Linked DNA regions of Homo sapiens: region 2 is linked to region 1. The links come from fine-mapping of genetic effects on plasma protein levels. A gene starts in region 1. The other region holds a variant in brackets. All regions are shown on one strand. Distances are between the middles of the regions. Region 1 holds the start of TJAP1 (tight junction associated protein 1). Region 2 overlaps XPO5 (exportin 5).

What was found. A credible set is the group of variants that fine-mapping cannot tell apart. PIP is the chance, under the fine-mapping model, that this variant and not a neighbour inherited with it causes the effect. The UK Biobank Pharma Proteomics Project read protein levels with antibody pairs (Olink). The fine-mapping took linkage between variants from a reference panel, not from the people measured, so its PIPs are less certain.
Region 2: its variant is the best candidate, but not a certain one, in a credible set for the plasma level of the TJAP1 protein (UK Biobank, PIP 0.62).

What each region holds. Positions count from the first base shown.
Region 1 is chr6:43,475,498-43,479,888 of GRCh38, reverse strand. It overlaps TJAP1 (tight junction associated protein 1), which reads right to left and starts at 2,319. Exons shown (of 11, transcript NM_001350562.2): 1 at 2,261-2,319; 2 at 1,657-1,802. RefSeq lists an enhancer at 1,176-1,969.
Region 2 is chr6:43,544,180-43,548,499 of GRCh38, reverse strand. It overlaps XPO5 (exportin 5), which reads left to right. Exons shown (of 32, transcript NM_020750.3): 18 at 40-239; 19 at 793-892; 20 at 1,748-1,929. It also overlaps a transcript of POLR1C not described here and LOC124900224. Among named protein-coding and RNA genes, the nearest start is that of POLR1C, 29 kb to the right of the region's middle. RefSeq lists an enhancer at 332-1,531. The variant G/TAG (reference allele first, on the strand shown) is at 716.

The DNA.
Region 1 (4,391 bases):
AAGCGATTCTCCTGCCTCAGCCTCCTGAGTAGCTGGGACTACAGGCGCATGCCACCACGCCCAGCCGATTTTTGTATTTTTAGTAGAGATGGGGTTTCACCTTGTTGGCCAGGATGGTCTCGATCTCTTGACCTCGTGATCCGCCTGCCTCGGCCTCCCAAAATGCTAGAATTACAGGAGTGAGCCACTGCACCCTGCCAGTGCTTTTTTTGTTGTTTCTTGGAGACTGCATCTCCTACGCTGCCCAGGCTGGAGTACAATGGGTATTCACAGGTGCCATCATAGTGCATTGCAGCCTCAAACTCCTGGCCTCAAGTGCTCCTCCCATCTCAGTATCCCAAGTAGCTGGGACTACAGGTATGTGCCACTAGGCCGGGCTCAGAGTCAGTGCTATTAACTGTTATGTGTGTTCACCACACTACCCTTGGGTGATTACAATTACAATTTGAAAGGGGGCACGAATTGTCCTCAGAAAAAGGAGGTTCTCAACCTTCAGAAACAGAGTCACAGCTACATATCATCAGTTCTTCAAATACCTAAAGGTACTGAAGCTGACCTAGTAACAGTGACTTGGGTTGTTCTGTTTGGAGTAAGCCTTTGATTGGGGGGACAGGTACAGAGCAGACAGTAAATGAAGAGTTCTAGATCAAACCATCCTAGTCCACCATGAAGCGATGCTGATCCTGAAGCAGGCTTCAATAAGAAGGCTACTCCCAACTCTGGCTAGGGCAAAACACTCACCAAAGGAAGTGAAGGCCACATTCACTGTGTTCTCTGGCTCCAGTCCCTTTCCTTTCTCTCCAACACCAAATCCACTACCTCTCAGGCCATGCTTAGTTTGGCTACTGAGACTGATATTTTTCAAAAGTGGTTTGATGGGAAGATTACAAAGGAGAGAAAAAAACTACCAGAAAAGAAAAGAGCAAGTTCCATGATCCTTTCTTTGCATCACCACACTTGTCCAACTGTAAAGTAGCTCTCAAATATTAGGGGTCTCAAGGATAGGCAGTGCGGTGCTAAACATTCCCAGAGCTTTACATCAGTCCACTTGATCTCTTACCAGAAACTGATCTACATTTTTTCTCTCTAATCCCAACCTGCCTTTCCCTCACCTCTGATACCCCCACCAAAATCCACATCCCCAGAGGAACACTAATGAGCCCTTCTTACCAAAAAAGCAAAAGTAGACACACAGCGAGAATGAATTCAGGAGTCAGTGACAGCAGGTACCTAAATGGTCAGTGAACACGATCAGAATTTGTTTTCTCGTGACTCCCCACCATCTGTCACCCACAAATCTCCACTTCCAGGCAGGACGCCAAAGTGAAGAAGTGATGGGGATATTGAAGCAGAAACAATGAGCATGTAGGAAACTGCTTGTGACAGGGATGTGTTAACATCCTTCGGCCTGGTCTCTAGGCCTCTGTCCAGGTTTACTTGCATAGGTGAAGGCACACAAGGCTTAATTCTACACCAACTCTCAAAAGTCAGCCTGCAATCTACGCCAAACACTAACTTAAGGACCTCAGACAAAGGACAAACTCTATAAAAGTGAGCCCTTTTCAGACCAAATGTTTCTTGGCATCACTCTAAGCCCATGCATCCTCCTCCCAGGGAGCATGCCAGCCAGAAACCTGTCACTGGAAGCCACCTTACCCGCTCTGGGGTTGGACTGGGGCAAGTCGCTATCTCTTCTTCTTTCCAAGTAGGCACTGTAATTTCTTCCAGTCCCTGGGGCACCTGAATCTTCAGCTGAAATTGGGGCAGATGCTGCTAACAGCTGTGGAAAGGCTGATCTAAGCCTAGAAGAGGGTCATTTGACTGGCTTTAGTTCCCTCCTTAGCAGATCTGCCCGGCATCCTCCAGATCTCTCTTCCTCACTATCCCACTCTACTAGAAAGATCCCTTTCCCCTCTGGCCGGCCAGATACAGTCGGGCCTCTATCCCACGCTCCAGGCTTCTTTATTCGCGGCTAAGAAATTTTCCTCCAACTTGTGACTCTGCTTCTCCAGGGCCTGCACAACACCTACTTCTGGCTGCCCCGCCCCCAAATCCCCCTCCCCTAGGGCTGCCACTGGACCCTAGGGCCCCGGTCCGCCCCAGCTCCTTTTTTTCCTCTCCGCCTCGGACCTTACTCCATTCCATCTCCTCTTTTCAACCCTGGAGCCAGTACCCCCTTCGCCCCTACTACAGGCTAGGGCCCCCGCAATCCTCCCCAACTCTGGCTTCCCCGCCCGACTACTCCAACCCCACAACAAACTTTCCGCCGCTGCCAGCTGCGTTCAGGCCGCCATCTTGCCGCGGGGCAGGCCGGGTAGTGGCCAGGGCCGCGGGAATCCCCACGCACTTGGCGTGTCGCGTCATCTGAGGCGGGGCCATGGGGGCGGGGCCTCGGGTTGGGGAGGTGGGACACTAGGTAGGTGATGGTGAAAAATGGGGCTCTCCTGAAAGCAGGGATTGGAGGACTGGCCACAGAAGGAAGGAGGTGTCAGGAGCAGGGCAATAGCGGGAAGCGGGGAAAGAATCCAGTACTGAAAGAAAAAAAAAAAAAAAAAGAATAGGGGAACACATCTCAAAGATACAGTGGGAGAGAGAATCGTGCTACTGGTTCCCCGTCATCCAGAGAATAAAACCAGCTTTTCAGTTTGGCATTCAAAGATCCGCATGATCCAGGCTCTTCCACCTTCATCAGCCTCATTTTTTGCCTCTCCTGGGAACTTCAGGTTCCCAAATTGTCCTTTGTTTTCAGGACATCGGGCCTTAAGATGTCTAATCTCTCTCCTCCTCCTTTGCATCATCAATTCCTCCTATTCCTTCAAACCATCAGCTAAAATGTCACCTCCCCCAGAAAGATTTCCCTTTAGTGCTCCTTTTGCTGGGCATCACTAGCAACTTGTACATAGCTTTACTGTAGCTGTCCCGTGCAGTGTAATTATTTATTTACATGTTATACCACTTTTGCCCTGCTGCTTCTTCAGGGCAAAAACTATGTTTGATTGCATCTTCATACTCCCTAGCAGGTGCTTGGCACACAATAATTGCCTAATGAATAAATGGCATGTTTTCCTCCAATGCATTAAGCATATTTCTGCCTCAGGGTCTCTAAATTTGCTATTCCCCATACCTGGAATGTTCTTCCTCCAAATATTGACTCTCATTTGTGTCTTTGCTCAAGTGTCATCACTTTAGAGAAGCCTTCCTTGGCCACTCAATCTAAATCAGCATCCCTATTCTCCTTTACCCTGCTTTAATGTTTTCATTCATAGTACTTATCATTATCTGACATTATATTAAATATTTATTGTTTATTGATCATCTCCCCACTACAAAGCAAACTCCAGAGGTCTGGGATGTTTTCTTGCTCATCACAGTATCCCCAGTGTCTAAAACAATGCCTGGCATAGTAGGTATTCAATAGATTTTTTTTATTCTGTTTGTTTAATTAATTAATTAATTTTTGAGACAGGGTCTCACTCTGTTGCCCAGGCTGGAGTGTAGTGGTGCGATCTCGGCTCACTGCAACCTCCGCCTCCCGGGTTCAAGTGATTCTCCCACCTCAGTTTCCTGTGTAGCTGGGATTACAGGCGCATGCCAGCTAATTTTTTGTATTTTTAGTAGAGATGGGAGTTCCACCATTCCACCATGTTGGCCAGGCTGGTCTCGAACTCCTGACCTCAAGTGATCCACCTGCCTCAGCCTCCCAAAGTGCTGAGATTACAGGTGTGAGCCACTGCACCGGCCAGTAAATATTTATTGAATGAATAAATGGTATGGAGGTTGGTGATTGACAGATTTTGGAATATACTGGTGGAGAAGAGGGGTTGAAAATACTATAAAATAAGAAAATGCATAGATGGAAGTTACATGACCTCAAGGCCCCACTTAGCACTAACAGGAATGGTAGCAAAGACAAGCCCCAGACTCAGCAAAGGAGAGAGTGAGATGAGGATCAGGTGGAATTCTGCAGCTGGGTCCTCAGGGAGCACAGCCATCCTAGGAAAGCCCCAGGGCACCGAGCAGGCCAGGTAGAGGAAATGAGGAAGGCTGGAGGCCAGGAGTCTCCTCAGACCTAAAGACATCATCCACCCCGAGCCCAGGCCTCTCTTGGCCAGATGGTTCCGGAGAAGCATCTGTCCCTCCATAAATTATCCAGGGCCCCCTCCAGCCTATCCTCTCTGGTGACAGCCGGAACAATTGTCCAGGAATTCCATCTGCTCCCCTGTCCCTCTCCCCTCCGCAGCTCATCAACATTTCAGAGCAGCAAGGTATCCCATTTCCCTGGGCCTAGAGATGGAGCTGGTCTGCCCCTTGGTGAAGCTGATCTCATGTACCCACCCCCCATCAACGCACACACACAAAAACCTCAGCAGAGGCTTCCAGATTCCCAGAGG
Region 2 (4,320 bases), 69 kb before region 1:
CCTTTACCACCTCTGGCTTTTTTTCTTTTTGATCTGTAGCCCAATTTTGACATGCTTTATAACCATGTGAAGCAACTCCTCTCCAATGAGCTACTCCTGACACAAATGGAGAAGTGTGCCCTCATGGAAGCCCTGGTTCTCATTAGCAACCAATTTAAGAACTACGAGCGTCAGAAGGTGTTCCTAGAGGAGCTGATGGCACCAGTGGCCAGCATCTGGCTTTCTCAAGACATGCACAGGTAAAGGAGATCCCTTGCCCTGACTCTTACTATACTCAAGCACCCATTTTGGTTTAAGAGCTAGGCCCAGGGTGGGGTAGGGGTTAAGGATATTGAAGTGTGATGGCATTATCCATGATATCTGAAGTTCTCTAAAAGCAGTCTTTTGTAATTTAATCTCTGGTTCAATTAGATTGTGGGTGGGGAGGGCACAGAGTGAGACTCCTGTGGTGTCTGCATTGCAGCACCAGCACATTTAGAAAAATGAGAACAGCTAGGAAGGGCCATACAACCACACAGACACTTATCTGTGCTCACACAGTAGAGAAATTATTTTCTTTATATTTTGAAGATTATATTCTTGTTTAATTCTTAAATTGTTACTAATAATATTTGGGAGTGGGAAGGGAAATTTAAACCTTCAAATGACAACTGACAATTAGTATGATTATACTCCTCTCACTATAAAAACTGCTCTTAAGGGCCAAATAATGATA[G/TAG]CCTGTTAACTCCTGTGGAAGAAACTGTCCTTGTTTAAAGTCATGATGTAACTTGTTTTTCCCCCTCCAACCTTCAGAGTGCTGTCAGATGTTGATGCTTTCATTGCGTATGTGGGTACAGATCAGAAGAGCTGTGACCCAGGCCTGGAGGATCCGTGTGGCTTAAACCGTGCACGAGTAAGACTTTCCTGGGAATGGGAAGTGGCATTGGCCATGGGTAGGAGTAGGGTGTTGTCTTTTGTCAAGTTTCTCATAGATTTGTTTTTTCTATACTGGTGAGAAACGTGGGAGTCTCCACTTCCCTAAGCTTCTCCTTTCTTTTCTTCTTTAGTCTTGAATTCTTGAGTTAGTTCCCACAGCAGAGCAGATGGTCTTTTCTATGAAGTCATTATTTTGGCTTTAAGGATCTCTAAATAGCTCTGAAGACTGAAGGTGTAATGAGGAAGTAGGTCAGAACTTGGTCAGCAGGGTGAGTCCTCCCTGCCATTGCTCTCTGGCATGTAAAGTCTTAAGTGATGGCTTAACTTGCAAACCTGAGATTTTTCAGTGCTTTGCTATTTAAATAAGCATTGTTCCTGGCTCCATTATGGCACAAGTCCCATTAATTAACCTGGCAAGTAGTAGGTTGATTCAGAGTACCGTGAGGGGGGATTAGGACACTAGCTGTCAAGGCCCAATAAGGGTCAACTCAAAGAAGATGAAGTGATGGCATTTTAAACACTTTGTTTTGGATCGTATCTAAGCCACCTTCTCATCAGGGTCCTGTGGGTGGGTCACTGCAGCTCCTAGAAAGACAGCTTACTGCAAGGGAAGTTTCCAGAGCCTACCACTGGCCCTGAAAATGGCAGTGAGAGGATCCCTCTTGGACTTCACCTTAAAGGAAGGGATGGGGGATTGCCGGGGAGCAGAGGATTATTTCATTCTCTCTGGCCTCTGTGTCACTTTTGCCAGAACCTTGAATATATCTAACAGTATTTGGTCTTTTTTTTTTTTTCCTTTTAATATTTATCTGTCATTCTTATTTTTCTATAGATGAGCTTTTGTGTATACAGCATTCTGGGTGTGGTGAAACGAACTTGCTGGCCCACTGACCTAGAAGAGGCCAAAGCTGGGGGATTTGTGGTGGGTTATACATCCAGTGGAAATCCAATCTTCCGTAACCCCTGCACAGAGCAGATTCTGAAACTTCTTGACAATTTGCTTGCGCTTATAAGGTGAGTCAGAATAATGGCTTTTCTCTGTTGTTTTCTACTTTACCTTAAAAATTTCAAAAGTTTAGTCTGTTTACATGTCTTCATATCTTAGTGGTATTAATGAGGGATTGATTTAAGTCTTATTTCTTTCTAGAGGGTGTCTCAGTTTTAAAAAAAATAACATCAGCTCTCACTTGCATAAATCTTAATTTCCATGTGAACCCAAGGGGATAATCCCAAAAGGGCTTTTCCCATTTTGAGCCTCCTCTTTGTTGTTCTTCCATTTCTTTATACTTCATCCCTATTTTTACTTGTAAGTTTTATTTGGTCTAAATTTTTTAGTAAAGGAATTGCTCATTGGGAGCAGGGCAGTTGCCTTCTATAATGATGCTTGTCTAGGTGGTATTCATATGAGCTAATCTGAATTTATCAATACTGAGTCTGAGCTCAGATGAACCAAACAACCGCTGGCTGAACATGCTAAACAAAGGAATTATAAATTTTTCATCTGAGTTTGCTAGATCCTTGGTTCTCAAAGCTGAGTCCTAAGACCAGTAGCATTAGCATCACCTGAGAGCTTATTTCAAAGGCAGAATCAAGGCCCCACCCCAGACATACTAAATCAGAATCTGCATTTTAACTAGATGCCCAGTGGTTTATATACACATTAAACATTCAGAATCACTGTTTTAGATCACATGAGTTAATATATTCAAGTGGAAGTAGGCCAGTATAGGCTTATCAGTTACTAGATATAGATATTTGATGACTCAGGGATGGTCTCTAAATGAAAAGATAGGTTTTTTTATATAATTCAGTTATTGGCCAAAGAGTGCTTTTTGTATCTCACAGGATTGGTTTTTTTTTTGTTTGTTTGTTTTTTTGAGACAGAGTCTCACTTTGTCACCCAGGCTGGGAGTGCAGTGGTGCAATCTTGGCTCACTGCAACCTCCGCCTCCCAGGCTTAAGCGATTCTTCTGCCTCAGCCACCCAAGTAGCTGGGACTACAGGTGTGCACCACCACTCCTGGCTAATTTTTGTATTTTTAGTAGAGACAGGGCTTCGCCATGTTAGCCAGGCTGGTCTCGAACTCCTGGCCGCAAGTGATCAGTCCACCTCGGCCTCCCAAAGTGCTGGGACTCCAGGAGTGAGCCACCACACCTGGCCTCTCACAGGATGTTTAAATTACATTGTTAGAGCTCTGTTTCAGTACTTTTTGGCCCCTTCTCCAAGGAGTAAAAGCAGTCTCAACGGGGCAAACCAAATTATTCATGTCGCAGTGAAACTCTCCTGGGAATAGACACCCAAGACCTGAAGCCTGAGAACCAAAGATTTTAAGTTAATGTTGACAAATTGGAGGGCTGGAGTGTCTGATAAAGTTGTCATTGTGGACATGTCTGTGGAAATAGACAATATTTTGGCGGGGTGTGGTGGCTCACACCTGTAATCCCAGCACTTTGGGAGGCCAAGGTGGGTCAATCACTTGAGGTCAGGAGTTTCAGACCAGCCTGGCCAACATGATGAAACCCTGTCTCTACTAAAAATACAAAAATTAGCTGGGCATGGTGGCACATGCCTGTAATCCCAGCTACTCGAGAGGCTGAGGCAGGAGAATCGCTTGAACCCGGGAGGCGGAGATTGCAGTGAGCTAAGATCACGCCACTGCACTCCAGCCTGGGCGACAGAGTGAGACTTCCATCTCAAAATAAATAAATAAATAAATAATATTTTCTTTTGATTTCTAAAGGAGGAAAGAGATCTCTGAAAAGAAGTAGGACTTGTACTGAGAGGGTTAAACATTTAGTCAAGAAGAGGCTTATTTCTATCGTGATGTTTTTATTAATAGAGATGGGGTTTTGCCATGTTGCCCAGGCTGGTCTCGGACAGCTGAGCCTGCTTCAGTCTCCCAAAGTGCTAGCATTACAAGTGTGAACCACCACACCCAGCCCCATAGTGATGTTTTTTAAAACCACAAGGTTCTTCTGCAGCTAGAGAAACGTGAAAGTGATGGAAATCATAGGGCAAGAAGCTAATCACCTAGACCTTTTTAGGCCTGTGGCCAGAATCTATGTGGCCAACCCAGACGTGGAAACAGGGTTCATTTCTGGTTGACTCTAGAGGCCACAAGACAACAGTATGATTATCTTTTTTTATATAATTTTCTTTTTTTAAAAAAGTATAATCTCTTTTCAATTTCTAGTCACCTTCCTATCAATCAGTAGAGGAAGATTCTCATGTGTTCACTATGTCTTTCTCCAGTTTTTTCCTCTATAAATTTACTACTCCTATTTTCTATAGAAAGACAATGGAAAGTGTATAATTGCTGTCGGTAGATAAGTAGGTCTTGAATTTATTTTGCAAACAAGACCTGTTCTGTCTATCCTTTCATTTAGGAGGCTAACAGCAGACTCA